Regions from separate parts of the Homo sapiens genome. Here regions 1, 2 and 3 are each linked to region 4. The links come from fine-mapping of genetic effects on gene expression. A gene starts in region 4. Each other region holds a variant in brackets. All regions are shown on one strand. Distances are from middle to middle.

Region 1 (8,092 bases), 130 kb before region 4:
AGCTGGGACATAGTGGAGCCAGGATTTGAACTCAGGGACACTCCTCTTTCAGAAGGACTTGTGCTATTTGGGTTGGGAGTGCAGCTAGCAGAGATAGGAGCCTTTGGGAGTCATGTTGGGCAGGTGAGGACAGAGTGAGGTTGAGGTGGAACCAGAGAACCTAAGAGACCCCAGAGCCAGAGCAGGACTCACACAGGAGGCAGACAGTTCTTCTGCACTCATTACCACATGGCACCTCTCATGGCTCCAAGAGCTGGGGGTGAATGGCTGTTGGGGAATCATGAGGGGAAAGCTTTTCCCCTGGATAATAATAATCACAATAACTGCAAACATTCATAAAGCATCTACCATGTGCTGGCTGTGCTTAGTGCTGTGAAACATGACTCTAATCCTCGCAACAACCCCGCTGTAGCTCCCTGCATCACCCAGGTCTTGGCTGCAGTGGCTCCTCCTCAGAGAGGCTTCCCAGGAGTCCCCCTCCCCGGAGTCATTTTCCATCATATCACATGGTAGCACTTGCACCCTTCTGAAATGAGCCTTCTCATTCTCGTGTTTGCTTGTTCAGCGTCTGTTTTCCTTACTGGAGTGTGATCTCCAGTGACGGCAAGGGCTTTATCTGCCTTGTTCACAGCTGTCTCTCTAGTGCCTCTAACACAGTCTGGCACATAGTCGGTATCCAGTTAATATTTGTTGGATGAGTGGATGGATGGCTGAATGCACAGGTGGGTGAGTGGGTAGGTAGATGGGTGGATAGGAGGGTAGATGGGAGGGTAGGTGGGTGGATGAGTAGGTAGGTGGATGATTAGGTGGGTGGGTAGGTAGGTAGATAGGTGAACAGGTGGATGGATAGGTGATGGGTGGGTGCCTAGGTGGATGGATGGGTCATTGGGTATGGAGGTGGGTGAGTAGATGGGTGAATAGGTGGGTGAGTGTGTAGGTGGGTAAATAGGTGGAGGGATGGGTGGGTGACTGGATGGGTACATGAGCAGCTGGCAGGCAGGCCTAGGGAAGGGGTAGGGACACAAAGCCACTGGCCCCCACACCCCCACATCAGAGCCGGCAGGGCCACTCAGGCAGCACCCACACCCCATCTCCAGATGCTGTCCTACCTGAGGCCTGCACAGTCAGCTCTGCAGCTCAGAGTGGGAGTTGGCCTCAGTGCTCCCCAAGAGCTCAGAGTGGGCGTGGGGAGCCCCAGAGGTGGGTAGCCTGGTCTTAGCTCCTTGACTCTGCTCTGCAGAGGAAGGAGCCAGGACTGGAGCCACAGCCCTGACTCTTGGGGAGACGGGCACATAGTTGACACCCAAGGAATAAAACTGCCCTCCCCTTGCCACTAGGCTCAGAGGGTCTCTAACAGCCTCGCTGCGCACCTTCAGAAAGTGACTCATGGAGCCTCAGGTTCATCGTGTTCAAATGGACACACAGCTCCTTGCGGGGAACTGAATGGGGCCCAAGCAATGTAGGAGAATGTCCTGGGTGTGGAGACACTTTGTAAAGCAGAAACTTAGGGCTGGCCTTGCTCCCAACCATGCTGTGGTCTTCTCACCTGTCCATAACAATGACAGGCAACTGCTCAGAAGAACTCCCTGGGCAGCGGGCACAGCCAGAGTGGAGGTGGAAGGAATAAAGGAAATAAAGAAGAAAAAGAAAGGAAAGGTAGCCTGGCACAGAAAAATGATAGAAGGGTGGAGAGAAAGAGAGGACAATTGGAGAAGACGGGACTGGGTGTGGCTCAGACCCTACCTGCCTCTCTCGGCTGTTGTGAGTTTCGTATACATAAAGCACTTGGGGCTGTGGCCTGCATACAGTGAGCGCTTGCTAAATGCTGAAGTATTGTTGCCACAGTGTTATGCAGAAGTTGGTGCAGGGACACAGATGAAAGGTGTCCAGCGTCCAGCACAGAGCCTGCTCAGCTATGGAAGGAGTGTGCCGGGGAAAGCCATGGGGACTCCCATGAGGCCACCCGACATGCTGATTGGGGGGCCCCAGGTGAACCTGCAGGCCTGGCCGAGCCAGATGTCCAGCACAAGAAGGCCCTGAACAAGTTAGTGGCCCTCGCCACTCCCTGAAGACCTAGAGAGAAAGGTTCAGTTTGGGGTACCTTAGCCCACGGTCCAAACTCTCAACAGGAGGGACTGCAAGGTCAGTGCCCAAATGTTCTGAGCCCCGTTGTTGGGGAGTGGGTGGGGCACCCTTGTCTTTCAGGACTGAGGAGGCTCCCAGGACCTAACTGGCCCTGCAGCCTTGGTCACCGGGCTCTGTCCTCTCATTGCAGAGAGGAGCCCCGGCCAGAAGAAGGGCAGGAAGGACCGGCGCCCACGCAAGGACAGGAAGCTGGACCGCAGGCTGGACGTGAGGCCGCGCCAGCCCGGCCTGCAGCCCTGACCGCCGGCTCTCCCGACTCTCTGGTCCTAGTCCTCGGCCCCTGCACACCTCCTCCTGCTCCTTCTCCTCCTCTCCTCTTACTCTTTCTCCTCTGTCTTCTCCATTTGTCCTCTCTTTCTTTCCACCCTTCTATCATTTTTCTGTCAGTCTACCTTCCCTTTCTTTTTCTTTTTTATTTCCTTTATTTCTTCCACCTCCATTCTCCTCTCCTTTCTCCCTCCCTCCTTCCCTTCCTTCCTCTTCTTTCTCACTTATCTTTTATCTTTCCTTTTCTTTCTTCCTGTGTTTCTTCCTGTCCTTCACCGCATCCTTCTCTCTCTCCCTCCTCTTGTCTCCCTCTCACACACACTTTAAGAGGGACCATGAGCCTGTGCCCTCCCCTGCAGCTTTCTCTATCTACAACTTAAAGAAAGCAAACATCTTTTCCCAGGCCTTTCCCTGACCCCATCTTTGCAGAGAAAGGGTTTCCAGAGGGCAAAGCTGGGACACAGCACAGGTGAATCCTGAAGGCCCTGCTTCTGCTCTGGGGGAGGCTCCAGGACCCTGAGCTGTGAGCACCTGGTTCTCTGGACAGTCCCCAGAGGCCATTTCCACAGCCTTCAGCCACCAGCCACCCCGAGGAGCTGGCTGGACAAGGCTCCAGGGCTTCCAGAGGCCTGGCTTGGACACCTCCCCCAGCTGGCCGTGGAGGGTCACAACCTGGCCTCTGGGTGGGCAGCCAGCCCTGGAGGGCATCCTCTGCAAGCTGCCTGCCACCCTCATCGGCACTCCCCCACAGGCCTCCCTCTCATGGGTTCCATGCCCCTTTTTCCCAAGCCGGATCAGGTGAGCTGTCACTGCTGGGGGATCCACCTGCCCAGCCCAGAAGAGGCCACTGAAACGGAAAGGAAAGCTGAGATTATCCAGCAGCTCTGTTCCCCACCTCAGCGCTTCCTGCCCATGTGGGGAAACAGGTCTGAGAAGGAAGGGGCTTGCCCAGGGTCACACAGGAAGCCTTCAGGCTCTGCTTCTGCCTGATGGCTCTGCTCAGCACATTCACGGTGGAGAGGAGAATTTGGGGGTCACTTGAGGGGGGAAATGTAGGGAATTGTGGGTGGGGAGCAAGGGAAGATCCGTGCACTCGTCCACACCCACCACCACACTCGCTGACACCCACCCCCACACGCTGACACCCACCCCCACACTTGCCCACACCCATCACCGCACTCGCCCACACCCACCACCACACTGCCCCACACCCACCACCACACTCCCCCACACCCACCACCACACTCGCCCACACCCACCACCAGTGACTTGAGCATCTGTGCTTCGCTGTGACGCCCCTCGCCCTAGGCAGGAACGACGCTGGGAGGAGTCTCCAGGTCAGACCCAGCTTGGAAGCAAGTCTGTCCTCACTGCCTATCCTTCTGCCATCATAACACCCCCTTCCTGCTCTGCTCCCCGGAATCCTCAGAAACGGGATTTGTATTTGCCGTGACTGGTTGGCCTGAACACGTAGGGCTCCGTGACTGGGACAGGAATGGGCAGGAGAAGCAAGAGTCGGAGCTCCAAGGGGCCCAGGGGTGGCCTGGGGAAGGAAGATGGTCAGCAGGCTGGGGGAGAGGCTCTAGGTGATGAAATATTACATTCCCGACCCCAAGAGAGCACCCACCCTCAGACCTGCCCTCCACCTGGCAGCTGGGGAGCCCTGGCCTGAACCCCCCCCTCCCAGCAGGCCCACCCTCTCTCTGACTTCCCTGCTCTCACCTCCCCGAGAACAGCTAGAGCCCCCTCCTCCGCCTGGCCAGGCCACCAGCTTCTCTTCTGCAAACGTTTGTGCCTCTGAAATGCTCCGTTGTTATTGTTTCAAGACCCTAACTTTTTTTTAAAACTTTCTTAATAAAGGGAAAAGAAACTTGTAAATGCTTCTTGAGCATCAAGAGGGTGTTGCAAAAC[C/G]ATGATACTGCTGAGTTTGGAGTAGCAGAATTTAAAACATGTGGAGTGGTTTTCACAGGAATGCTTGGGGCTGAGAGGGGTCAGAGTGTATTGGGGATTGGGGTGGGGTTTCAGCTTGGGGGGAGCTGATAAAAGAGGAGGGGCCCTCAGCCCCTCCAGGCTACTCTCAAGAAGCAGACTCAGCCAGAGGCAGAAGAGGGTGACACCTCGATCCCCAGAACCTCGCAGTTTCACGAACCAGATGTCTCAGGGACCAGGGGTACCTAGGAGGTTGACAGTCCCACGGGGCCATCTAAACACCCTGGGCTGCTGGTGAGAGTGGCCTTGGCATTGGGAGGCACAGGTGGGAGCTCCAGCCTGTCACCAGCTATCTGATGGGGTCCAGGTCAAGTCACTTCCCCTTCCGGGGCCTCAGTTTTCCCATGTGATGAATGTGATGAAGAGGAAGCCTGGCTAAATTAAATCTATTGCCGAAATCTGGAAGACCCAACAACAGAATCCCCTGGGGAGCCTTTTAGAAATTCAGGTTTTGGGGCCCTCCCCCAGATCTATTCATTGCAAACAAGTTTAGGAGCAGGCAGTGAGAGCAAACATTCTTTCCAGGACAAGCTGAGGGGAGAGGTGGCTCTCAGATGACTTCCAGCTCAGAGGGCTGAGTCTAGATTTGCAGCTGCAATTCTGATTCTGACCTCAAGGCTCAATGATCTGATTCTACAGAGTTTAGTCTGTATGTGTGTGTGTATGTGTGTGTATCTTTTTAATTTTTTTTTTTTTTTGGCAGGGTCTTGATCTGTCACCCAGGTTGGAGTGCAGTGGTACGATCACAACTCACTGCAGCCTCAAACTCCTGGCCTCAAGCAATCCTCTTGCCTCAGCCTCCCAAGTAGCTGGGACTACAGGTGTACACCACCACACCCAGCTAATTTTTTATTTTTTGTAGAGATGGGGGTCTCAATATGTTACCCAGGCTAGTTTTGAACTCCTGGCCTCAAATGATCCTCCCACCTCAGCCTCCCAAAGTGCTGGGATTACAGGCATGAGCCACTGTACCCAGCCCCTATATAAATAAATATATATATAAATATATATATATATACACACACACACACACACACACATACATACACTATATAGTGTTTTCTGTTAAGATTCCAGTTTTAGGATGCTGAACGTTCTAATTTTCACAATTCTAAAAGACCAACATAAGGGTAGAAGTTTCCAGTACTGCAATTCCCTGGCCATGTTCTTTCTTCTTGGGGGGCCTGGTCCTCTGTCCTCAGCTGGGGGCTGTGGTGGTTTTTTAATATTTTCAAATTACAGGATGAAATTTCTTCAGGGCCTAAGCCCCTCCTATAACCTTTCCATCTCAGACGTTCCCTGCCCCCAGCTCCAATCCTTTCAAATCCCAGCCTCTCCCACATTCTCTGGAGGATTGAGGGGCCTCTCTGGGAAGGAGACTCTGCTGTCAGGTGGGCATCGCCCACTCCCTTCTTACAAGCCAAGCTTGGAGAAGTTCACAGAGAAGCTCAGAAACAGGGTGAGGTCACACAGCCAAAGAGAGGCAGTCTGGGCAGAGCCCAGGGGGAGGTTCCGCTGCTATTGGCCTTCTGGATGCTATGCCAGAGGGAGAGAACAACCCCTTGGCCAGAGCTGAGGAATCCCTGGTGGGTTCTTCCTGTCACCGCTTCCAACTGGGCCACACTAGGGCCCTCTCTGCAGTTCCCCCCACCCGCTCACTCCATCCTCATCCTCACCACAGCCCTGCATGTCATTCCCACATGCTGCCACCGGATGACGGCAGTCAACCAGGAACAGGTCGCAGCCAGGCTTGTCAAGGAGCGCATTTCTGAAACGGGGTCGTGTTGCGGTTCTCTCCTAGCAGGACTGGAGCAGGGTGGAGGGTAGCCGAGGGCAAGGGACAGGCTGCCTCAGACCGAAGGACTGACTGCCTCAGGCTGAAGGACAACAGTTGCAATGGGGACTTCAGCTGAATGGCCTTCTCAGCTGTGCAGAGAGTGTCAGACTCAGAGGTCCCTGTCCCAGGTCCTTCCTTGCACAGAAGGGAAATCTGACTCAGAGCATGACCTCCTGCCCAGACATCTGGCCCAGGTGACCTATGGGGATTACACCTCTCCATTTTCGCTTGGAAGAAAATTTCTTTTTTCTGTCTTTGTTTGTTTGTTTTTTAAGATGGGTAATAGCTCTATCGCCCAGACTGGAGGTCGGTGACATGATCCCGGCTCACTGCAGCCTCGACCTGCAGGGATCAGTTGATCCTCCCACCTCAGCCTCCCAAGTAACTGGGACTACAGATGCACACCACAATACCCAGCTATGTTTAAAATTATCTGTAGAGAAAGAGTCTTGCTATGTTGCCCAGACTGGTCTTGAACTCCTGGGCTCAAGCGATCCTCCTGCCTCAGTCTCCCAAAGTACTGGGATGACAGGTGTGAGCGACCGCACCCAGCCCAGAGGAAAATTTCAAGCCATCGTATGTGGACCTTCTAACTCAGGAAATGTGCATTCTTATAATACAAATAATAGTAATGATGAGGATGAGGATGATGACGTCATCTTATATTTATGGAGCACCTATTCTGCACCAAACATAGCTAAGCATTTCAGGTGCAATATCTAATTTCCTTTGCTTTTCTCTCTTCAGCATAAATCATAACTACCATTTTTCTACCAATTCCTCTTACTAACCTCGCATTTCCCACCTATCTCCTGCCACCTTCACAGCTACGTTGCCAGCTAACTTCTAGGAGGAAAAACTGAGGCTCAAGTTCAAGTCATTCAAAATCCATCAGTCTCACCCATTCATTCATTCCGTGAATATGCATAAAGTGCCTACTGTGTGCCTGGTACTGTCCTGGGTGCTGGTGATAAAGACCCTGCCTTGTCCTCCAAGCGTTCAGTCTGCAGACAGTCAATTCCAACAATGTGATAAGACCTTCCATGAGGACAGGATCTAGCATATCCTGTCTAAGGCATACAGGGGTTAGGGAGCTCCTCCTCCAGGACCAGATAGCCAAGCTGAGAATTAAAGAGTGCGAGGTGTTAATGAGATGGGTGGGGAGGGGGAGGAAACAGCACTTGCAAAATCCTGGAGAAGCTATTCATGGGGGCGCCAGCCCTGGAATTGCTAAGCCTCCTAAGCTGTCAGATCCTGGAACATGTGGACTCAGCCCTGGGGTCTGATGGCTCCCACTCAGCCCCCCATGACTCCCACCCTCACCCATAGCCATAGCCAACCTACCATCCACAAGGTGGAATGGATCCTCCAGCCAGACTTGTAGCTGAAGAAGCCTTCTCGCAAGTGGGTCTTCTAGTCCTTGCTGTTTTACCCGCTGCCCCTCCTTACCCCCCACTGCAGAACCCTCCCAGCCACAGAGTCCTCCCATCGAAGGCCCAGCAGAGAGAAGCTGTCCACCTTATCCTGCCTGAACTCCTGATCCACAGAACCCAGGAACATGATAAAATGGTTGTTTGTTTATGCCTCTGAGGTTGAGGAGGTTGTTTCATGCAATGGACAGCTGGAATGGGGTTTATGGTGGCACCTCTCTCCTAGAGTGGGAGGCAGGGAAGTGAGGTGGGTAAGAGCAGACAGAAGATCACGAATCCCGTCGCCGCCAGTGACGCCAGCTATGAGCCTTTAGGCAAGATCCTGTATCTCTCCCTGTGCCTCAGTTTTCTCATCTTCTTTTTTTTTTTTTTTTTTTTTTTGAGACGGAATCTCGCTCTGTCGCCCAGGCTGGAGTGCAGTGGC
Region 2 (8,102 bases), 35 kb before region 4:
TTTTTGGCTACAAGGGCCACAGTGACAGCCTCAAACAACCTCTAAAAACAACTGGAAATAACCTTTCAGTTAAAACAGATACCATCCCTGAAGAAGGGTCTAGAACTAGGTCCCTGTCTGTGTTATAGGCTCATGTCCTCCAAGGCTCCTTCAAGTCCCAGGAAGCTGATCTCTACCTGGGTGGCTTCCCTTAGGACTCCCTGTAACCTCAACTCCCCCAGGCTCAATTACAGGGACTGTTAGGCAGGACATCTGTCTCCAAGTCCAGATCCTCTCTGCCTCCAAGCCCTAACCCCTAGCCTCCCTCCCTTCCCCATCCAGCAGTGATGCTGCCTCTGTGGTGGTAGGTGGGGAGCTGCAGGGGAGGAGATAAGGCCTCTGCCTGAGTTTGGGAGACCAGGGCCCTCATAGCTTCTTTCAGAGGATGGAGTCAGAAAGGATCCACAGCTACTCTGTCACCTGCCCCCATCACTGTGTCATGCTGTCTGCCCTGTTGTCATCAGCCAACACCCAGGCATAGCCAGGAGCCCACCTGCCCTACCGCCAGGATACACCTCTGTCCTCAGAAGGTTTTCTCCTGGATGAGACTGAGCCAATGGGAATGGGACCCCTTCATCCCCCTGGCTCGCCCCAGCCCTGAGTCCCACTCTCAGCCGATCCCTGAGTAAACCCAGCACAGACTGACTTTGATCTCATTCCTGGGAATTAGCACTCTTCCCCTTCAAGACTCAAAGGACATGGTTGCTAATGGTGGCATTTCAGGCATGATGGGAAATCTTTAGGGGCAGATTGCTGCCCAGAGAGCTCAAATCGCCTTAAGCAGCATTTGCCCAGCAGACCTTTATTTAGCCTCTACTGTGTGCAGTGTGGTGTGGTGGGCAGGGCTTTGGAGTCGGACAAACCTGCTCCAGCTCTGACACTTTGGTCCAGTGGCTCAGCCTCTCAAGGCACCAGTTATCTTCACATCATCAAAGCCTCAGTTTTCCCATCTGTAAAATGGAGATGATAATATTCCTTCCTGGCTGGGCTATGGCAAGGAGGAAATGAGACCATGTATGTCATCTTCTTAATAGAGCCTGGCATGAAGCAGGTGCCTAATAAATGTTTGTCCTCAAAGAGGAGAATGGGGTGAGGAAGGCATTCCCCAGCACATGCCGCCCCTTCTCCTGCACTCAGGTGAGGAAAAGGCATTTTATTTTTGTATCCACATCATTTATTTTTCTATTGTAGTTTCTAGGCTGACTGCAAGCTAGAGAGGAGACAGGGCAAAGCTGTGAGGCCCAGGGACAGAACTCCTCTGGGTGGGTTGAAGGCCCAAGTCCCTCTCTACTCCCATTTTATAAGGGGGCAGGAAGCTGATTTGAGTTATCCTCAGACACCTGTTCTTTATGTAATTTTATTTTATTTTTTTGAGACAGAGTCTCACTCTGTCACCCAGGCTGGAGTGCAGTGGCATGATCTCAGATCACTGCAATCTCTGCCTCCTGGTTCAAGTGATTCTCCTACCTCAGCCTCCTGAGTAATGGGATTACAGACGCCTACCACCACGCCCGGAAAACTTTTGTATTTTTAGTAGAAACGGGTTTTCACCATGTTGGCCAGGCTGGTCTCAAACTCCTGGCCTCATGTGATCCACCTGCCTCAGCCTCCCAAAGTGCTGGGATTACAGGCATGAGCCACCATACCCAGCCTCAGACACCTGTTCTTAAATATTCATCCTTCTTTCTTACCTTCCTTCCTCTTCCATGCCAGGACTCAGGTATAAGGGATAGAAATTCTAGCCCTAAGGAATAAATTGACTCACATAACTGGAAAGTCTAAGGGTAAAGGCAAGTGAGGTTAGATCCAGAGGCTCAAATGATGTCAGCTCCACCTCTCAGCCCCTCCATCTGCCCCGTTGACTTCATTCTCAGCCAGGATCTTTCCTCACAAGAAGGCTCTGGCAGCCCCAGGCTCATGTCCTCCCAGCTCAGCATCCCTGACCCGGGGAGCTCCCTCGTCTCCATGATTCCAGTAAAGGAATGATTTTCTGCAGCCAGGATTGGTCTTGTGTCCATCCCTATGCTTATCACTCTTACTCTGCTTGACCAGACCTCGGTCTCATGATCATGCCTGGCACCAGCAGTGGGGTCAGTGACACCCAAGTCATGACTTCAGGAAACAGGGATGCTAGGCAGCCTTCCCTCGTTCCCTGTCCCTGGCTCTCATCTCTCTTCTCTCCACCTCTGTGCCCTCTCTCGGCCTCCCTGTCCCCAGGTCCTGACCCCAGGATCCAGTTCATCCCAGATTGCCTCTGACTATCAAGGGCACAGCTGTGTCCTGCCCAGGAATATTAGACCCTGTTATCAGTCTGGCTCTGCCATTGGATCAGAGCCCCTGGCCCTCTCTGAACCTCAGTTTCCCATGGACAGAGCACCTAGCAACCTCTGAAAGCCCTTCTGACAGTGAGGCTGACTCACAATGGCTGCAGACAAGACCAACCTGAGGATCCTGGGCAGCACAAGGCACTGTAGAGGGCACGGCTGGTGTGGTCTCGAGCCTAGACTGGGTCTCCTGGGGGCCACAGCTCATAGGTGCCAGCCTCTAGGATACCTGCATCTGCGGGTTCCTATGGAAAACACTTGTCACCTCTCCCTGCACCAGGTTAGTTTTCTTCCCATTTCAGTGATGAAGAAATTAGGCACCGGGCACAGTGGCTCCTAGTCTGTAATCCTAGCACTTTGGGAGGCCAAGGCTGGTGGGTTGCCTGAGCTCAGAAGTTCAAGACCACCCTGGGCAACATGGTGAAACCCCATCTCTACTAAAGATACAAAAACTAGCTGGGCATGGTGACACATGCCTGTAGCCCCAGCTCCTCAGGAGCCTGAGGCAGAAGAATTGCTTGAACCGGGAGGCGGAGGTTGCACTGAGCCGACATCTTGTCACTGCACTCCAGCCTGGGCGATAGAACCAGACTCTGTCTCAAAAAAAAAAAAAAAAAAGAAAAAGAAAAAGAAAAAAGAAATTAGGGCTCAGAGAGGGAAAGGGTCTCATCCAAGGCAGCACAGCCAAGCACCACCTCCAGCGCATTTGCATTTGTGAGCTGCCTTCCTCTCCCAGAGCACTCTGGGCATCTGGGCATCTACCACCAAACTCGTGTACCAAGGGCAGGAGGAACTTCCTGGAAAGGCCTCCAAGACCACTCAGTCTCTCCCACTGGCACTTGATGGATCCATCATTTCTGAGATCTCTGCGTTGTTCCCAGCAAAGGCAGTTTCCACACTGGGGAGAGAGTTCCCTGAGTACACCCCAGAGACAACCACCACAGGTGAGGTAGAAAGTGGCCATGTGCGGGGGGTGAGGGATGGTCCCCACCAGGATGGTTTGTCTCTGCGGCCGAGGGATTTGAGCCTTTTTTCTGAGTTTTCCTCCGCCTCGATCTGTGTGGGCCTTCGCCTCTCCCATTTAAAGATGCTTCCGAAAGCTGACAGCGTCGCCTTGGCAACACCAGTATCAGCATCCTTAAATGAGAAGATGAGGTGAAGTGACTTGCCATGATTTGTTCACTCTACTTCCCCTCCTTAATAAAGCAGCTCACAAAGCTGTAATAATTAATCCAACATGGCACAGGTATAAGGATTAGCAAATGATGACCACAAATAATCCATGCAATATATGTGTATTATTTTTCTTGATCTCACTTA[A/T]CCTTGAGAAAGAAAATAATTGACCAGACTTGCTTTCTGATGTGACACAAAGGACAAGCCCACATCAGCCCATAGGCTATAAAAACAACTGACAGATATAATAATGCACAACCACTCGATATCTATGTGACCTTAAACAAGTTGCACAACCTCCCTGTGCCTCAGGTTCCCCTCTGTAGCAAACTGGTAACACTGCTGCTTCATGGGGTCATTGAAGGATTGATCAATGAATTTTTCTTTGCTGTGGCATGGGCGTCTTTGGCATCTGGTGAAGCCATGGACCCCTCCTCAGAATGGTGTCTTCACATGCTTAAAATAAAATTAAATGCATTGGATTATGAATGAAACAAATTATATTAAAAACACAGTCATTGGCCGGGCGCGGTGGCTCACGCCTATAATCCCAGCAATTTAGGAGACCGAGGCGGGCGGATCACGAGGTCAGGAGATCGAGACCATCCTGGCTAACACGGTGAAACCCCGTCTCTAGTAAAAATACAAAAAAAGGTTAGCCAGGCATGGTGGCGGGCAACTGTAGTCCCAGCTACTCGGGAGGCTGAGGCAGGAGAATGGCATGAACCCAGGAGGCAGAGCTTGCAGTGAACTGAGATTGTGCCACTGCACTCCAGCCTGGGTGACAGAGCGAGACTCTGTCTCAAAAAATATATATATACTGTCATCAAAATATTTTAAGCTGGGTCCCAGTTACTTGGGAGGCTGAAGTGAGAGGATCACTTGAGCCCAGGGGGTCAAGGCCACCTTGGGCAACATAGCAAGACTTCATCACACACACACACACACACACACACACACACACACACACACACACATATACATATATATATATATACTTTTTTTTTTTTTAAAGAACACAGTTTTGATATTGTACTATATATGCTTCTTTGCTAATACATTAAATAACAAGATCAGTGGTAGGTCAAAACAAATGATGACTGTTAATATTTTGAGATATCTATAATCATTATAACAAGATACAAAAATAGCTATGATTTCTAATGGTGACAAAGTTCCAGGCACTCCTGACACTACTGTGGCTTGTGCCCTACATTCACAATTGAAAGAATGAATTTGTGAATTTGTGAATGCCCTACATTCACAAATGAAGAATGAAACAACCGAATTTAATTAAAGGTGAGTGAAGATACACTTCATCCATGGACCCCAAAAAGACACTAGGTTATGTATCCTTAAAGTAATACATATATTAATTTAGAACATATGTGCTTAGAATAGTACCTGGCATATAGCAAGTACTTGACAAACATTGTTTTTATTAATATATCTTAGGCATAATATAACTCATATATAGTTAATACTCTAAAATGATTGATTTATTAATATATAAATATGCCATTATGCCATATACATCTATCCAGATATTGCATATATGCACATATATGAACATATATGCATATTTGAAACACTGTATGGTTACACTGTACAGTATACCTACTGTGTGGTAGCCACGTACATTGACATGTGCATGAACATGTATGTGCATTTCATACTTGTTGCTACAGACGCAAACATGGAGGTAAAAATACATCTTCCATGTACACATGCAGGTCTGTGAGGCACTTGCTCATGCACACAAGTGGTCACAGGCAGAGAGCCAGATCCACTAGAGATGCTGCCACTCAACTCAGCCTGTCAACAGGCTGACTCTAGAGACCCATTTGGACTCTAGATAGAAACCCCAGAAGTCTTCAGGATCCCTGTTCAAGTCTTGTCCTTGTAGGAGGGGTCCTTTCTAGCGATGGCCAACACCCTGTCTGACCCACATCTCAGAAGAGATGCTACACAGCAAGACCCTGAGCAGTGAGGGACATGAATCATGCCCTTTCCCTTTCCCTTCCTAATATCAGTCCCCAGCTGCAGGGCTAGGTCCTTTAGTCTGAAGGGGTCCCCCAGCCACTGATGTGTTCAGGGACCAAAACTGCAGCCAGTCAGCACATGATATTCCCCTGGCCATGGTTCCTACTGCCAGGGCTGGTCATGTGACTTCAATTAGTTCACTCATACTAAAGAGGAAGACTTAGCGTTTCAGGGATACAGAAAAGTTACCTCTTCTGCTGGCTGGGCGTGGTGGCTCATGCCTGTAATCTCAGCACTTTGGGAGGCTGAGGCGGGTGGATCACCTGAGGTCAGGAGTTTGAGACCAGCCTGGTCAACACGATGAAACCCTGTCTCTACTAAAAATACAAAAATCAGCCAGGAGTGGTGGCAGGCACCCATAATCCCAGCTACTTGGGAGACTGAAGCACAAGAATTGCTTGAATACAGGAGGCAGAGGTTATAGTGAGCTGAGATCGCACCACTGCACTCCAGCCTAGAAGACAGAGCAAGACTCTGTCTAAAAAAAAAAGAAAGAAGAAAGAAAAGAAAAACAAAGATTCTCTCTTCTGTTGATGGAGAAGACACTACACAGCATGGATGCTACTCCAGTGTGGACCACCAGGAGAACCACATTTGGGACCAATCTGACAGGGAGGTGGGAGAGTGAGTGGTTGAGTGGAGGGTCAGAAGGGGCCTGGAGCTTTACTGACATCATTGAGGTCCTGAGTCCTGTCTCTAGATGATCAATTTCTTTTTCATTTAAGCCAGTGGAGTTGGTGTTCTGTTACTTGCAGCCCAGAGCATTCCGAATGATGCAATGCTTACATTTCTGTTTCCTCACTGAACTCCATCCTTACTCTGAGAGAAGAGAACCATATTATATTGCAGAAAACTGAGTCTTAGAGAGGTCAATCAATTTGCTCAAGGTCACATAGACAGTAAACAGAGAAGACAGACCTTTTATATCCAAAACACATCTACCTTCGCCTTTCCACCTTCCATCAGCTGGAAGTTATCAATAAGGGCAGCCAGTTTGGAGTTTGACTCTTGATCCTTTTGTAGCATGCATGTGTTCCTGCTCTGTGCATACAAGCTCTGTGCACAGGTGCCCAGATGCGCATGTGTGTGCTGAGGTTCAACACTGGAACTTATTCAGCTACAACAGATGTGTCCTCTGGGCCCTCGCAGCAACCTGGTATAACACACGTGCCTACAGAGGATGTGTTTGGCATCGCATTCTGCTGCTTTTCTGCTGCTTTTCTGCTTCTTCGACCACATGAATTGGCTTAGGATGCTTAATGTAAGATTTTATATTTTCTTCTTTTCCCCAATTTCTACACTCCATCCCACAAAAAAAGAGCCAAACAGTATTTTCCGTCAAACTGGAAGAAAGGGACTCTGCCAGTCAGGTAAGGGAGGGCAGTTGATAATTGGAATGGCACACCTTGGGACCCAACACAGAGCCCTTCCCTCCTGGGTCTCAGTTCCCCCATCTGGATAATGGGGGCTGGACACCCTCTGGTGACCCTTAGGTGTGGCCTTTGGGAATCTTCAAATCCTCACCATCCGAGCCCAGGCCTCAGTGATCCACATGTGCCACCTTTCCCAGGATCCCACTGCAGATCTCTCACCTTCATTACTTCTTCCTGAGACCAGCTCAAGACCAAATAATGGGAAAGGAAAACTTCTGGGAGCAGAAAAGAATCTAAAAATGCCTGCCCAGTTTGAGCAGGAATGAGCTTGTTGCTCCAACTTAATATATGGAGAGCTTTAAAAGGAGGAAGGGATCCTCTCAGACCCACTAATGTTGACTGAAATTGAGAAAGAGGAAAGCAGCCCTGACATCCAGGGGCCATCCTGGATAGTCATCAGCTAGGACTGGGTGTTGCTGCAAGTCAGCCCAACATGCACAGAGAACAGCTTATGTCCTGTCCAATGTTAATGATTCCCCAGAACACCAACATCAGATGAGGTCCTCAGTGATTGATGAATCAAGACGAAAAGTGGAACACTCTGTAATCATGTCTGAACAAAGACAAATCATGCACATTTCCAAGCCACGAAAATGACCAAACACCCCTCAGTCCCAGCTAATACAAGTGACCGCTGCTTCTTTCCCAATGACAGCATTAGCCTTGCCAGAGTCTGCCTTCTCTATAGACAAGACTTGTTAAGATCGCAACTGCATAATTACCCTCACTTCCTGAGAGCATCCAATCTGAAGAAAAACCCCACATCCTCAAACCCTATTCAAGTCACCTAACACGAGACCAATCCTATAATAAGCCTTTTCTAACACTCTCACTAAGACATTCCAAGGTTCCCCATGCTGTGCACTTTCTTGTCCCAGTGAGTAATAGAACCACTTGTTTAACTACAGGTGCATTCCTGTTGATCTTAGGCCCTTAGGAGGGCATTGACGGTAAACTACTTATTTGTGTGCATTCATGAAGTGAGCTATCAACTCCTTAGGCTTATAGTTCCCAAACAACTAAAAAGACTGAAACAAAATTATCAATCAAATACTAATGCACTATAAAACTAATAATAATTATTATTATT
Region 3 (8,102 bases), 490 kb after region 4:
ACATTTTCCCTTCTTTTTTCTTTTTTTTTTTTTTTTTTTTTTTTTTTTTTGAGACAGAGTCTTGTTCTGTCGCCCAGCTGGAGTGCAATGGTGCAAACTTGGCTCACTGCAACCTCTGCCTCCTGGGTTCAAGCAATTCTCCTGCCTCAGCCTCCTAAGTAACTGGGATTACAGGCGCCTGCCACCACGCCCGGCTCATTTTTTTTTTTTTTTTTTTTTAGAGGGAGTTTCGCTCTTTCACCCAGGCTGGAGTGCAATGGATTGATCTCAGCTCACTGCAACCTCCACCTTTTGGTTTCAAGTGATTCTCCTGCCTCAGCCTCCCGAGTAGCCGGGATTACAGGCGCCCGCCACCACACCCAGCTAATTTTTGTATTTTTAGTACAGACAGGGTTTCACTATGTTGGCCAGGCTGGTCTCCAACTCCTGACCTCGAGATCCACCAGCCTCAGCCTCCGCCTACCAAAGTGCTGGGATTACAGGCGTGAACTACCGCACCCGGTCCATTTTTGTATTTTTAGTAGAGAAAGGGTTTCGCCATGCTGACAGAGCAGGTGTTGAACTCCAGACCTCAGGTGATCTGCCCACCTCAGCCTCCCAAAGTGCTGGGATTACAGGCATGAGCCACCATTATTTACATACAATAAATATGTAAATAATTATGTAAATAATTTGTATGTAAATACAAATACAATGAAGGCTCCCTTCATTATTTAAACCCATTTGAATTGGGTTTTCTGTTGCTTGACTGTGCAAGACTCCTAACTACTACGCTATCTCTTCTTTTTTCCTCTGAGCCTCAAATTCAGACTCATTTCCTCCATCAAGGCAGAGGAATCATGGGAGGTGCTCATCTGGCCTTACCTTCCAACACAGTGAGGGCCAGGGCCGGCGGGGGCACAGGACCGGAGGTCCCTCAGGGTCGTCGCTGAGAGCAGTGCCTGCACAGTCCTCATAGAAGAGGTGCAGGTAGGAGCGGACCCCATACCACTTGCCATCCTCCACGCTGGGGCCGCGGCTGCAGCTGCAGGAACGATTGCAGCTCGGCATCATGGACCCCTGGGGAGCAGGTAAGGTGCAGCTGACGGAGGGAGGGATTAGTGGGAGCTGCTCATGGTGACCTTCATAAGCCCCCTAAATCTTTGTGCCCCACCCGCTTCTCCTCCCACTCGAGACACCCTACACGCATAGCACAGTCTGGCCTTTTGGAATCCCAGCCTGTCCTTCCCAAAGCACACTGCGAATGAGCCAATGCACTGAAGGCCTTAGCCCAGTGCCTGGCAATTGGAGGTGTCAATAAATGTGCATGTTTACTCTGGAGGCCACCCAGTACCTGGGACTGTGGGCTCTGGAGCCTGACCACTTGGACTGGAGTCGTGGACACACTGCTTCCTGGAGGCGTGACCTTAGACAAGTGCTTCCACCTTTCTGGGTCTCAGTTTCCTCATCTGTAAAACAGACCTAATAATCATACTTCTTTCATACAGTTACTGTGTCTAATGCTGAGAAATGGTAGCTGTTGTGATTAGTACTGTAATTTTTTTGCTATTACTTCCATCTTGAACTTTTTAGTCTCCATATCTGGAATGAGAGAGCCTCACCCTCCGCTCCCCTTCAGACCCCCTCCTGGGGGTAATTGTCATGGCTGACACTTGGGCTGGAGTTCCCAAGCTGCAAGGCTATAAAAAGGTCCTCCCCAGGACTGCCCCTGAAAGCCTCCAGATTCCAATGAATTTTGACTCCATTGGAAGTGAAAGTCAGGGTCCCTCAGGATTAAAGACTCTTAGGCTTAAGGGCTGTTAGATTTCCAGAGAAACCTATCAAATAACCTTTTTTTTTTTTTCCACAAAAGTGGACACGGATCTTGGGAATGGAAGGTACTTGTATATCCATATACAGGTTTGGCCCGAACCAAAGCCAGGAGGTGTTGGGGGAGGACTGGGCTTCTACCCCAGTCTCCATGATGGCCCTCAGCCTTAATTAGCAGCCTCCTGCAAAATGAAACAATGTGCTTGTTCCAAAGGGTAAGATAAAGGTCCTGACAGCTGCCCCTCACTTCCAATCAGATGTGGTCCTCAAATCCCTGCATAGAGAAACTCACCGAAACAGCACAGAGAAACACACAGACATACTCACAAAGCATACAGAGACATACCCAGATAGGTACGACACACACACACACACACACACACACACACACACACACACACACGGTTGGAGGTTCTGCTTGGAGTCACACGGCACACAAGATTGCTGTCAAGAAAGCCTGTCCATAAATAGTGGCTGTACACCCTCCTCACTTACAATTCAGGGAAAAGAAGAGCGGGGAAGGAAAGGAGGAAAAACAACAACAACAAAAGCCACGACAGAGAACGGGAAAAGGCAGAGACTGAAAGCGAAGGACCGTCGGAGGAGGAGGGCGAGAGGTCTGGAGAGGAGGGCTCGCCGGAGGAGGCGGGCGGGGCGGGCTGTGCGGAGGGTGCGGCCAGCGCGGTACCCGCCCCGGCGAGGCGCTGGGGAGGCCCGGGTGGGGAGAAGAAATGGGGCCTGGGGGACGGTAGGAGCCTCCGTGCGGAGACCACTGTTCAAGGCCACAGGTGAGGAGGTGTGGAGGGGGCTTCGGGGCTGTTGACCTGGGTCAGCTCCTCCCCTCCAATTCACCGCTTCCGCGACTCCAAATAGATGGAATCACTCAGTCCTGCTGCTACTGGAGAGGGAAGGTGACCTTGACGCTGCCTCCCGCTCGGCCTGGCCCCTCCGCCTGGCGTTTCAGGGCTGCACGGAGTAGGTCTGGCGGGCGGGGGGCGGGGCGCAGGCACCCGGGACGAGGGTTGCCATGGGAACCGCTAGGGAGGCGTCCCCAGCCCGGGAGCCGGGAGGAGCTCGGTGGGAGGGGAGCGGGAGGCGGAGGGGGCTGCGCTGTCCGACGTGGGGAGACTGCGGCGGAGGGAGGAGGCGAGGGGCGGCAGGCACGGGCGGAAGTGACGGAAGCCAGGGCCCGAAGATGGACGGAATCTGTCGCCTCTGCACAGCCTCATTCAGTTGTGTCCTTCCCAGACCCTCAGACTCGCCCACTACAGCGTCCAGCGCTGCCCGGGCGGGGGAGAAGGGGCGCCCTCCCGGGGGGGATGGGTAGGGGGTGTCGGCCGGGGAAATCAGGCCATTTCCCGCCTCCCTTCCCCACCGGCACCCGCGCCACTCTTCCTGACAGGACCACCGATGCCCTGCTCCACACCAACTGCGTCCTTTTCCCTAGAGAGAAACTGAGGCAGAGAGGGGTAGGAATGGGTTTTTGAAGTGTTGGCGGGGGTGGGGGTGTCCTTTGAAGCCTCTACCCAGCCTATCAACCCTGAGGCGTCGAGGGGCGATGGGGCTGTTTCTGTCTCCCGCCCCTGCTGCTTCCCTGGGACCCCCACCTCCCAAAGCCGAGGCTCAGGCGCAAAGGTCCCGGCCCTGGCGGGACACGGCCCGGGCTGAGGATGCGGGCAGAGCGCGGGGGTTCTCCAGGGGCTGGGGCTGGGGCCTGGCCGCGCGTGGGGCAGGGCTAAGCTCACCTCTCTGCCTGCTGTCTCCGCCGAGCAAAGGCGGGTCCGGTTCGCGCCTGCGCCGCAGTTCGGGGCGGGGGAGGGGGCGCCGGCCCGCCTCAGGGCCTGGCTCTGCAGACGGCGGCCGCCTGCAGCTCCCCCGG[C/GC]TCCTGTCCCCTTCCAGAGTTCCCTGCTCGCTCGGACACCCCAGCGCCCTCACAGAGACCCCTCGGACTCCCTGGGCCCCAGCCCCTCACGCAGCCCCTCAGACTCCTCACCGAAGCTGCCGTCACTCCCGCAGTTCCCCACCCCTCCCGTGGAAGACCCATCCCTTAACCGAGCCTTCCTCTCCTCGCTGCACCGTCAGTCCCTTTTCCAGGTCTCCATCCCCCTCATGGAGCCCCACCCCAGCGTAGAAACCGCTTCTCCTCGCCGGGCCCCCGCCCTCTTCACAGGCTCCCATCTGTCTCCGGGCTCCTACCGGGAAGTCCCCTCCCACTTGCCTTGAGAGCCGCTAATCCCTCTGGAGTCCTCACATCTCACTCAGTCCCCATCCTCTTTTCATCCTCTTTTCCTCTTTGAGTCCCTACCCATCCCTGGTACGGGATCAGCCCTTGTACCTTGAGAAGGGAGTTTGGGTGGAGGACTCGGGGTTGGGAGAGAAGTGACCTCCACTTTGGAAGGAGCTAATGACAGCCTCCCTTGTTGTTTCCTCCCCTAGCCCCAGTTCTGCCCTGGGCAATGCGTGCCCACTGCCCATCTCCCTGGAGAGCCAGCCTGTGCCAGGCAGCTGCATCTGCCTCCCACCCTGTCATGAGCTGTCAGCCTTGATTTTGTCCCACATTTGCTGTGTGATCTTGGGAAAGTCATTGTGCCCCTCCAACCGTCATCAAGCACCCTTGCACAGACATGCCTTTGTGTCTTGAGCATCTATTCTGTTTCTCCTTGTGCTAGGGGCTGGGGACACACAGAAGAATGAGCTCGGCAAGATAGGGCCACATCTTCCTTTTTAGTTTTTCTTTTTCTTTTTTTTTAATTTTTATTTTTTTGAGACAGCGTCTCACTCTGTTGTCCAGGCTGGAGTGCGGTGGCATGATCACGGCTCACTGCAGCCTCGATCTCCCAAGGCTCAGGTGATCCTCCCACCTCAGTCGCCTGAGGAGCTGGGACTACAGGCACGCACTACCATGCCTAGCTAATTTTTTGTATTTTTAATAGAGACAGGGTTTTGCCATGATGCCCAGGCTGGTCTTGAACTCCTGAGCTCAAGTGATCCACCTGCCTCGGCCTCCCAAAGTGCTGGGATTGTAAGCGTGAGCCACCGCGTCTGGCCAAGGCCACATATTTCTTGTTCGTGTTGTATCTGTGAGCCTCCCATAGTGCTTGGCACTGAGTAGGCAGCCCAGTAAATATTTACTGAAGACAGTCTAATAATAGTAGCAAACTTATTATGCTCACTATGTGCAAAGTGTTTAAGCGTTTTGTATGTTCTATTTACTTACTCATTTAAGTGTGTGTGTGTGTGTGTATGTGTGTGTGTGTGATGGGAGGAACTCTTGCAGCTCAAAACTAAAGGCCCCAAATGGTGACAGGAGATGGCATTGGAGAGGCAGGCAGAAGTGAGACCTTGTGGGGCCTCATAAGCCAAGGTAAGGAGTTTGAGCTTCAGCCCAAGGGTAGTGGGGAGCCATGGAAGGGTTATGAAGAGGGGTGGGATGTGATCTGATTTTCATTCTGAAAAGACCTCTGGCTGCTGTCAAGAGAACAGCATGTTGAGCACAAGAGTGACAGCAAGAGATCAGCAAAGAGATCAGAGATGACAGTGTCTTGGCCTGGTGCAGAGAAATGAAGACATTCAAGAGATGTTAGCCTGTAAAATGAACTACAGGAATAGCTACAGATTGGAAACAACCTGTGGTGGTTTTAAAATATAGCTACAAATTCTTTAGCACTCCTCTGTAGAGAGGTGGGATCCTTGTACCCTCTCTGAATCTTGGGTGAGCTGATGACTGCTTCAACCAATGGAGTACGGTGGAAGTAACACTCTGACTTCTAAGGTCCAGACATAAAAGTACAGGCAACTTCTGCTAGAACTCTAGCTCTTGGAGCCTGAGGCACCATGCCTACCTAGGGCTCCATGTCTGCTTAGAGGCTGCCATGCTGTCAGGATGCCAAGACCATCAGGAGAGGACACATGAAGGCACCACAGTCCCAGCTAAGCTTAGCTTTGAGTCATCCCAGTTCAAGCATAAAAGAAGTGAGTGAAGAAGAACCAGATGAGGCCAGGCACGGTGGCTCACACCTGTAATCCCAGCACTTTGGGAGGCCAAGGCGGGTGGATACCCTGAGTTCAGGAGTTCGAGACCAGCCTGGCCACATGGCAAAACCCCGTCTCTACTAAAAATACAAAAATAGCCGGGCATGGTGGCGTGCACCTGTAATCCCAGCTACTAGGGAGGATGAGGCAGGAGAATTGCTTGAACCCGGGAGGCAGAGGTTGCAGTGAGCCGACATCATGCCATTGCACTGTAGAAGGCGAAGGGGAAGGGGAAGAACAAGATGATTCCAGTGGCCAGCCATTTGAATCAGCTTCAGCCTTCAAATCTTCAAATCTTCCTAGCTGAAGACTCAAACATTGCAGAGTAGAAACAAGCTGGCCTCACTGTGTCCTGCCTGAATTCCTGACACACAGAACCCACAAGCATATTCAAGTGGTTATTGTGTTATACCACTAGGTTTGGGGGGTTTTGTTCTGTGCTAACAGATAACTGGGACACCACTTAAATATCCATCAATGGAAGACGAGTTATGTACATTATATGTCTTTGTGGAATACTATGCATCCATTAGAAAGAAGAAATTAGTCTATAATTATTTATATTAATCACACTTCAAGTGAAGAAGGATGCAGTGTTCTGAAAAGTCTTGATAGTATGCCTCCATTTGAAATTCTCAAAAAGATGGCACATATAGAGAACTTCTGGGAAAATAGACAAGAAAGAGGTAACAGTAGATGCCTTGGGGGAGGGTAACTGATGGCAAGGGTGGGAATGAAATTCACTTTTTTTTTTTTTTTTTGAGATGGAGTCTCGCTCTGTCACCAGGCTGGAGGGCAGTGGTGCGATCTCAGCTCACTGCAACCTCCGCCTCCCGGGTTCAAGCGATTCTCCTGCCTCAGCCTCCCCAGTAGCTGGGACTACAAGCACATGCCACCATGCCCAGCTAATTTTTTTTTGTATTTTTAGTACAGATGAGGTTTCACCATGTTGGCCAGGATGGTCTCTATCTCCTGACCTCATGATCTGCCTGCCTCGGCCTCCCAAAGTGCTGGGATTACAGGCATGAGCCACTGTGCCCGGCCGAAATTCACTTTTTACTATACACCTCTATGTTAGTTATCTATTGATTTTGTAAAAATTTAGGTGAGAAATGATGAAGAATTGGAGTGGGCAGGAAAAATGGAAAGGAGGGTGCAGGTGTGAAAAATGTCCATAAAGTTAAGTTGGCAGAACTTGGTTACTAAGAAGTAAGGGAAGTGACAGGGATTGAGAGAGAGAGAGAGAGACAGAGAGAGGGAGAGAGACAGAGAGGATAGAGGCTGACTTTTATGTTTATAGGTCAGGTGGGTGATGCTCCCATTAACAGAGATGTAAAATAGATGAGGGAAAGCCAGGTTGTGGAGAAGTTGATGCCCTTTGCTTTTGGCAGAGTTGAATGGCACTGTACAGGACATTCTGGCCTAGAGTCAGGGGCAAGGTCTTGGCCTTAGATACAACATAGGGAATTGTTCTCACTGGAAATGGCAGTTTTAAACTTGAACTGGCTTTAAACAAAGGGAATATAAAGGCTCACATAATTGAGAAGTCAAGGGATACTGGCTTCAGGCATGGCTGTATCCAGATGCTCAGGATCTTTCTCTTTATCTCTTGGCTCTTCCCTCATCTGTGTTGGCTTCAATGTCAGGCAGATTTTCCCTATATGGTAGCAAAATGGCCACAGACTTCAAATTTAACTGCTGGGAAAAGAATCTGTTTCTCCTTATAGTCTCAGGAAAAGCCCTGATGTTGATTCCCCTCACCCCAGTTAGATAATATGTCATTTACTGAACCCACTGGAGTGTCTCTGATTGGCTGGTTACTTGCTCACCCTTTGGGTGGCTGGCAGTGCTTAACCCAGAGAAACCTCTTGGACTGAGAACCTGCTTGAAGAGCTTCCCTAAAGGGAAATTGAAATACTGTTACTGTAAGAAAGGGCAGTGGGGCCAGGCCCAGTGGCTCATGCCTGTAATCCCAGCACTTTGGGAGGCTGAGGCAGGTGGATCACAAGGTCAGGAGTTTGAGACCAGCCTGACCAACATGGTGAAACCCTGTCTCTACTAAAAATACAAAAATCAGCCGGGTGTGGTGGCATGCACCTGTAGTCCCAGCTACTCCGGAGGCTGAGGCAGGAGAATCACTTGAAGCTGGGAGGCGGAGGTTGCAGTGAGCCAAGATCGTGCCACTGCACCGTAGCCTGGGTGATAAGAGTGAGACTCTGTCTCAAAAAAAAAAAAAAAAAAAAAAAAAAAAAAAAAGGGCAGTG
Region 4 (8,102 bases):
AGGTAATGGTTAAGAATGCAGAGTCATGACTGGGTGCAGTGGCTCAAGCCTGTAATCCCAGCACTTTGGAGGCTGAGGCAGGTGGTTCACAAGGTCAGGAGTTCAAGACCAGACTGGCCAAGATGATGAAACCCCGTCTCTACTAAAAATATAAAAATTAGCCCAGCATGGTGGCGGGGGCCTATAATCCCAGCTACTCAGGAGGCTGAAGCAGGAGAATCATTTGAACCCGGGACACAGAGGTTGCAGTGAGCCGAGATGGCGCCACTGCACTCCAGCCTGGGCGACAGAGCGAAACTCTTGTCTCAAAAAAAAAAAAAAAAAAAAAAAACAATGCAGAGTCACTTGAACAGACATTTCTCCAAAGATAACAAATGGCCAACAGGCACAGGAAAAGATGCTCAACACCATTAGTCATTAGGGAAATGTAAATTAAAACCACAATGAGACACCACATCACACCCCTGAAGATGGCCATTACCAAAAAAAAAATACAAACAGAAAATAACAAGTGTTGGTGAAGATGTTGAGAAATTAGCACTTTGTGCACTGCTGATGGACACATAAAATGGTGCAGTCACTGTGAAACACAGTAAAGTAGTTCCTCAAAAAATTAAACAGAATTGCCATAGGATCACCCAGCAATTCCACTTCTGAGTGTATACCCAAAACAATTAAAAACAGGAACTCAAACAGATATTTGTACATTCATGCTCAAAGCAGCATTAGTCACAACAGCCAAAAGCAATCCAAGTGTCCATCAAGGAATGAATGGATAAACAGAATGTGGCATATACATAGAATATTAGAATAGATTATTCCGCCATAAAAAAGAAAATTCTAACACATACAACAACATGGGTGAAACTTAAAGGCATTATGCTAAGTGAAATAAGCCAGACACAACAAGACAAATACTGTTATGATTCCATTTATAATACCTAGAGGTACCCAAAGTAGTCAAATTCACTCAAACAGAAAGTAGAATGGTGATTGCCAGGCACTGGGGGGAGAGGCAATGGGGAATGTACTTAATGCCACTGAACTGTATACTTAAAAGTGGTTACAATGGTAAATTTTATTTTATATACATTTTAATTCATTCACTGCCCCACCCCACCCCCCCCCCCAAAAAATGTAAAATTTAGAGCCAGACTCTCTGGGTTCAAACTCCACCTCTAGGTTATCTTATGCAAATTATTAAACCTCTCTTGTGCTCAGTTTCCCCTCTGCAAGATGGAAATAAGAACAGCAGTAATTACCTTATATCACAGAGTTGAGGGAATTAAATGAGTTCATACTTGTAAAGTACTTAGAACATAGTAAATGCTCAAGAGGTGTTAGTGATTTTTATTCTTTGGTGAGGGGGTGGGAGGTGTGGTTTCCAAAGGTTATAATTTTCATGACATTCTACACCCAACCCGCCCCCTTCCTCCCACCTGCTTCTTTCTTTCCCTTCAGCAGAAGCCTGGCCTAGATTTGGGGAGGCCCTTGCCTGCCCCAGAGGAGATTGGGAAGGCTCCAGGCAGTGGCAAGGGGCCAGCCAGCAGGGCAGCCCCAGCTCAATTTCAGCCCAGCTGTCCAGGTCAGGGACACCCAGCTGGGCCACCTCCAGAGCCACACCAGGCCCTGAGCTATTTCTGGAGGCCTCCCAGACGCTGGTGCCCTGGCCTGCCCAGGAGTCAGCCTTGCTCAGGGTGGCCTTGCACTAACATTAGGAAGGGAGAAGGGAGTAGGCTGTGGAATGGGTGTGGATGTGGACATCTAGGCCCACTGATACCAAGTTGATCTTCTAGGCCTAGGTCTGCACTTGAGGTTGCAAAATGGGGATGAAGGATTTTGCAGTGAGGACAGAATGGAAGATAACACATGCAAGGTCTTGGGGAAGGGCCTGGCACGCAGGATTAGAAAGGGGAGGGGGAGGCAGATCCACAGCCAAGCCCACTTCCTATCCTAGACTGCCCTCTGCCCAGGCCTGAGTGCACCATCATGACTTCTTAGCTCAGCCCAGAGACTGAAGAAACTTACTCAATGTCACAGAGCAACTCAGGGACAGGGCAGTGGTTTCATGATTTATAAATATGCATATATATACACATATATACATATATACACACATACATATATATACATATATGTGTGTGTGTATATATGTGTGTGTGTATATATATATATAGAGAGAGAGAGAGAGAGAGAGAGAGAGAGAGAGAGATGGGAGGACTGCACTTCATGAAGGCTGTGTGAGTTAACCTCCTGCCTGCAGAACACACAAATGGTCCATGAACGTTAGTTTCAGTCTTGATTACTGAGGTTTTGGGCATCCCTAAATTTTGCACTGGCTCAATTGCCTCAGCCCCTGCCTTGCATCACAGTGGGAGAAGATGATACATTTGCTAATAAGTAAAAAAACCAAAACATGCAAGAACCAGAGCAGGGCTTATGAAGTCAATAAATAATATTTGTTGAAAGAATAAAAGAAAGCCTTGTTTTCTTTCTGAGTCCTCGGAGATCCTGTCCCCCAAAGCCAGGGGCAGGCTCCAGAGGAGAGAGGATATGTAACTCCCTTATGAAGAGATTGAAGACTCTCAAAATGCATGATTCTGTGTGTCAAGGATTCTAAGATTGAAGCCAGAGGGACTAGGAGCTAACCACTGCATTGTCTGACTGTGACTTCGAAAAGGGGCTTAACTTCTTAGAACCTCCGTTTCCCCACCTACAAAAGGAGACTGACAATAGCAACCTAGGGGGCAGGGGGTGTCCCCAGGAGACACAGCAGGGTCTGGCCTAGGTCAGCTGCTCCACCTGGGGGGATTCCGGCCCCACTCCCAATTCCAAAGTCTCTGGTGACTAGTGGCTTTGGTTTAGGGACTGGCTCTATTCCCTTCCCCAAACTGGGGATGATTCCCAAGAGGCCAGCAGCGGCTCTGGGGGCTGGAGAATCTGCTGCCCCTGCATCCAGCCCAGAAATGTCAGTCCCGTCCGATCCCCAAAGAGTGGTCCTCTGTCCCCGTAGACAGAAAGGCGCCAAATGAGCCGAGTCCAACCCCGGACTGCGGAGAAGGAAAGACAGACGCCCAAAGGGGGTATCCCGAGGACAGTGTGGGGCGCGGGGATATGTGATCCAGCCAGGGGTCTACAGGTCCCTGCCGATAAAACGCTGGGAAAATGACTACCAGTTGCCCGTCTGGGCCTCTCAAGGCAAGTCCAGATGTGACTAGACTAGGGGGCTGCGAGGTGGGGCAGAAAGACTTGAACTGGATTCTCCGCCAGAGCTCGCCGGGCCGGGACACTTGCCTCTCTGAGCCTCAGAGTCCTCATCTGTGAAATGACACGCAGGTACGACGCGGGGAGAAAGCAGACAGCAGACGCTCGGGGAACGGGGCCCCCAGACCCGGGGTCGCACCCGGACCCACCCGCGCCCTCACCTGGAGCCCGCGCTAGGCGTGTCCCGGCTCCTCTCGCGCAGGCTTTGGAGAGGCTGACAGCTCGGACCCGGGCCGGTAGTGGCCGCTCCCAACGACGCCCAGGAGGCCCCAGCCCCGCGTGGGCACCTTTGGGGTCCCCTTTGGAGCTGCCCTCCGCGGTCGAGCTGAGCGGGTGGCCCTCACTGTCGAAGGCCCCCACCGCAGGGAAAGTCCCTGGGGCGCCGTGGAAGGGGAAGTGAGCACGCCGCCCCCCTTCACACCAGAATGGTTCGCCCCGGACTTCCTGATTGGTTCCTCGCTTCCGTTCGAACGGCGCGCCGCCAGGGTTGCCAGGCGACCGCTTAGCTTCCCCCGCCCGAAGGAGAGGCGCTGCTCAGCAGCTCCGCCCGCTCCTCCCAGCCGGCCCCACCTTCTTCCTGCCGCCGCTTCAGCCCCGGCGCCTGGTTCTTTCCCTTCCTCCTCCTCCCTCCCGCGGCCAGCTGGGACTTCCTCTAGGACCCCAGCTGGAAGAGCTCCAGTTAGAGGGCCCTGGCTGGTTCCTAGTCCTGACTTTGACGCTAACTCCCTATGTGACCCGGTGCAAGCCCCTTCCTTTCTCTGTTCTCCTAACTGCATGATGATGAGTGAGTTAATTTTAAAATGTGCATACCCAGCAGTCCCGAAATTTACAAAGGAAATGACCAAAGATATGAGCAAAGATTAATATTGCTCAGCCTTATTCATCATAGCAAAATAATGGAAACAACTTCAATGCCTCTTGAAAGGGATTGGTTATATAATTCCATCCTGTGGAGGAGCTAACTTAATTGAGCTTTTTGCATGCCGGGTAGCTTTACAGAACAAGTCTTGTCAAGGCTTATGACATAACCCTCTAAAAGTACTTTTAATTATTAACACTTTATTTATTTCTTTATCTTTTTCTTTTCTTTTTTTTTTTTTTTTTTTGAGATGGAGTCTCACTCTGTCGCCCAGGCTGGAGTGCAGTGGCAGGATCTCAGCTCACAGCAGCCTCAATCTCCTGGGGTCAAGCAATCTTCCCACCTCAGCCTCCCAAGTAGCTGGGACTACAGGTGTGCACCACCACACCCGGTATTTTCTGTATTTTTTGTAGGGATGGGGTTTTGCCATGTTGCCCAGACTGATCTTAAACTCCTGAGCTCTAGCAATTCTACCAACTCAGCCTCCCAAAGTACTAGGATTACAGGCATGAGCCACGCCACCTAGCCTAATTTTTCCCACTTTCTGATGAGGAATATTATGCAGCCATTAAAAGTGAAGTAGCTACCAGGAGCAGTGGCTCACACCTGTAATCCCAGCACTTTGGGAGGCTGAGGCGACCAGATCACCTGAAGTCAGGAGTTCAAGACCAGCCTGGCCAACGTGGTGAAACCTCGTCTCTACTAAAAATACAAAAATTAGCCAGGCGTGGTGCCACATGCCTGTAATCCCAGCTACTCAGGAGGCTGAGGCAGGAGAATAGATTGAACCTGGGATGTGGGGGATGCAGTAAGCTGAGATCATGCCACTGCACCCCAACCTGGGCAAGAGATCATCTCAAAAAGATAAAAATAAAAGTGAAGTAGCTAGAAGATATTTAAAGATAGGGGGAAATGCTAAGTATTAAACATTGGTTTATTTATGTTTTTTAGAGACAGGGTCTAGCTCTGTTGCCCAGGGTGGAGTGCAGTGGTGCAATCATAGCTCACTGTAACCTAGGTTGAAGCAATCCTCACACCTCAGCCTCCAGAGTAACTAAGACTACAGGCCCGCATCACCATGTCAAGCTACGGGTCTCGCTATGTTGCCCCAGGCCAGTCTAGAACTCCTGGCCTCAAGTGATCCTCCTGCTTTGGCCTCCTGAATTTCTAGGATTACAGGCATAAGCCAATGCACCCCTCCCAAATTTTTTTGAAGTACAGTATGCTTCAAAACACTATGTACAGCATAAATATGTATTAAATACATATGTATATGTGTATAATCATCTATAATCACAGCAGTTAATTTCTTCTTTGTGTTTTTGTGAATTTTCCAAATTTCCAATACTTGAACATGTCAAAAAAGTATATTTTTAGGGGGATTAGAATGAATTAACTCTAAGGGCCTTTAAGGTGAGGAAATTTTATAGCAGTCAGTCTGAATTGCTCAATTTGGAACCAGCTTCTCTGTTTCATTCCAGCTGGTGTCTTTTATTCTTTGTTTGGATTGCCAATAATTGAGAACTTACTGCGTAAACCCCTGGGTGGGCAGGGGAGGGAGCTAATAATATATCAATAGCTAATAATGATTGTACACTCTGGCATGGACACCAACCAAATCAGAGCCAACCACTGTCATAAACAGGGAGTCTGCTGTATCCGTGAGGACCAGCTAAATATCAATCCTGGCCCTGTGCCCTCTGCTACATTGTGTTAGGGCTTTATACACATCATCTCATTGGACTTCATGACTATCTAAGGCGAGAGATCCTGCTATTATTCCCATTATATAGATGAGAAAACTAAGGTCGGTCTGGATCCAGAATGAATTCTCTGATCCACTCTGTTACATTCCCTTGTAAACATGTGAGAACTGTTTGGGAGTAACAGTGAGGTAAGGCAAGGGGGATCCTGTGATCCTATAAGACACAAGAGAAGATTGAGCAGGTAGCTTCAGCCTAGGGAGACTTCTTTTTTTTTTTTTTTTTTTTTTTTTGAGACAGAGTTTCACTCTTATCGCCCAGGCTGGAATGCAATGGCACGATCTCAGCTCCCTGCAACCTCTGCCTCCCAAGTTCAAGTGATTTTCCTGTCTTAGCCTCCTGAGTAGCTGGGATTACAGGTGCCCGCCACCATACCCGCTAATTTTTTGTATTTTTAGTAGAGACAGGGTTTCAGTATGTTGGTCAGGCTGGTCTTGAACTCCTGACCTCAGGCGATCCACCCACCTCGGCCTCCCAAAGTGCTGGGATTACAGGCGTGAGCCACCACGTCCAGCCCTAGGGAGACCTCTTTAAGAAAAAATTACAGATATGAAATTAAGTAATAAAGTGAAGATTTGGTTAGAAAGAGACAAGAAACCACAATAAGGTGGCTCATGCCTGTAATCCCACCACTTTGGGAGGTCGAGGTGGAAGGAGTGCCTGAGCCCAGGGGCTTCAGACCAGCCTGGGCAACAAAGCGAGATCCCCAGCTCTACAAAAAAATTTTAAAAAGAAATTAGCTGGCCAGGCATGGTGGCTCATACCTGTAATCCTAGCACTTTGGGAGGCCGAGGCTGGTGGATCACCTGAGCTCAGGAGTTTGAGACCAATCTAGACAACATGGCAGAACCTCATCTCTACTAAAAATACAAAAAATTAGCTGGACGTGGTAGTGGGCACCTGTAATCCCAGCTACTTGGGAGGCTCAGCCAGGAGAATCACTTGAATCTGGGAGGCAGAGGTTGCAGTGAGTCAAGATTGTGCCACTGCACTCCAAGCTGGACGACAGTGAGACTCCGTCTCAAAAAAAAAAAAAAAAAAGGAAAAAAGAAATTAGTCAGGCATGGTGGCACGTGCCTATAGTCCCAGCTACTCAGGAGGCTGAGAGGGAGGATTGCTTGAGACCAGGAGGTTGAGGCTGCAGTAAGCCATGATTTCACCACTGCATTCCAGCCTAGATGACAGAGCAAGACCTTGTCTCCAAAAAAAAAAAAAAAAAAAAGAGAAATTGCACAAACGTTACAAAACGCAGAAAAATAACATTCTTTTTATTAGCTGCCTGTCTCAAACACATCTGTAATACTTTCCATAAACTAGCTGCTGGCTCCGTGTATACATTCAAACCTCTCCTTCACAGTCTTGTGGAACTGAGTGCTGTAGGACCATTCATATATCTTGAGATATAACCTCTGATCCTGAATCTTGATGCCACGACAAGTTGAGTCAGCTCAGTATGCTCGGTATGGATATATTCCTGGAAGCCATTTCAATACCAGGTCAGTTAGTAATAATTTTTCACAAAAGTGACTGGAAACAATATAAATATATCCCACTAAACCCAAAGTAAATGTTAAGGTCCTTTTAGCAAGATGCCCAAACTGCTCACACCAACCCCAACATCATCTGATGCAAAGGGAAGTTGGAATGAAAGGAGATAGTGGTTTTAACAGAATGAGGTTAAGATGCCTTACATTGGTAAATTTTACAGAAGCACATGGCCATGTGAACACATCACTAGGGTGCTTCCCAGACCTCAACTTCCCTGTTATTAACCAGGAATGACAACAATGGTGTTGACCAAATTCTTCTCTGAGATATGTAACTTTAATCAGGGTTGGGAGATATTTGAGATACCTGGATAAAGGCCCTGCTCACTGACCCTTGCGTCTTCAAGTTTGCCTCTGCCATGCACAGCCGAGAGCTTAAAATTAGACAAAACAAAAACCGAGAGGCCCATTCCTAGATTGAGAAAGTGAGGCAGAGGGCAGAAGGAACTTGTCAGGATCCCAAATTAGGCCATGTAAAGAGAGATCATCTGGGCGCACTCAGATTCTAGAATTGTGGGCATCTTTATGTGCCAACAGCATATTGGTCTTCTATTTTCAGGACTATATTAAGCACCTGGTGCCAATTCAGAGTATTCAAGTCCTCCCAGTCCTTCTCCTCCCCCACCATGGGGAGTGGTGAGAGAGAAGAAAAAGGCGGATAAACTGTCA

Which allele goes with the higher level. Alleles are on the strand shown, and positions count from the first base shown. SD is a standard deviation of normalised expression in the study named. Not every link is listed here.
As copies of G replace C in region 1, the expression in thyroid of the gene that starts at base 3,662 in region 4 goes down (moderate effect, 0.47 SD a copy in GTEx).

What was found.
Region 1: its variant is fine-mapped to the expression of FAM110A in thyroid (GTEx, PIP above 0.99).
Region 2: its variant is fine-mapped to the expression of FAM110A in whole blood (INTERVAL, PIP above 0.99).
Region 3: its variant is fine-mapped to the expression of FAM110A in monocytes after Pam3CSK4 (Quach 2016, PIP 0.95).

What each region holds. Positions count from the first base shown.
Region 1 is chr20:954,650-962,741 of GRCh38, reverse strand. RSPO4 (R-spondin 4) reads left to right here. Exons shown (of 5, transcript NM_001029871.4): 5 at 2,276-4,290. The coding sequence ends at 2,385. Among named protein-coding and RNA genes, the nearest start is that of ANGPT4, 42 kb to the right of the region's middle. The variant C/G (reference allele first, on the strand shown) is at 4,324.
Region 2 is chr20:863,836-871,937 of GRCh38, reverse strand. ANGPT4 (angiopoietin 4) reads left to right here. Exons shown (of 9, transcript NM_015985.4): 9 at 1-2,038. LOC124904854 (a long non-coding RNA gene) reads right to left here and starts at 986. Exons shown (of 3, transcript XR_007067485.1): 1 at 903-986. The variant A/T (reference allele first, on the strand shown) is at 3,684.
Region 3 is chr20:342,595-350,696 of GRCh38, reverse strand. NRSN2 (neurensin 2) reads right to left here and starts at 3,586. Exons shown (of 5, transcript NM_001323682.2): 1 at 3,555-3,586; 2 at 3,185-3,263; 3 at 1,334-1,448; 4 at 865-1,059. The coding sequence starts at 1,053. It overlaps LOC101929937 (serine/arginine repetitive matrix protein 2-like), which reads left to right and starts at 2,007. Exons shown (of 4, transcript XM_047440635.1): 1 at 2,007-2,024; 2 at 2,312-2,597; 3 at 2,683-3,278; 4 at 3,706-4,431. The coding sequence starts at 2,007. The coding sequence ends at 4,029. RefSeq lists silencers at 1,158-1,452, 2,479-2,568, 2,749-3,278, 3,299-3,718 and enhancers at 2,525-3,287, 3,288-4,050, 4,051-4,814. The variant C/GC (reference allele first, on the strand shown) is at 3,689.
Region 4 is chr20:829,275-837,376 of GRCh38, reverse strand. It overlaps FAM110A (family with sequence similarity 110 member A), which reads right to left and starts at 3,662. Exons shown (of 2, transcript NM_001042353.3): 1 at 3,426-3,662. RefSeq lists an enhancer at 1,646-1,745, a silencer at 3,262-3,411 and a cis regulatory region at 7,881-8,102.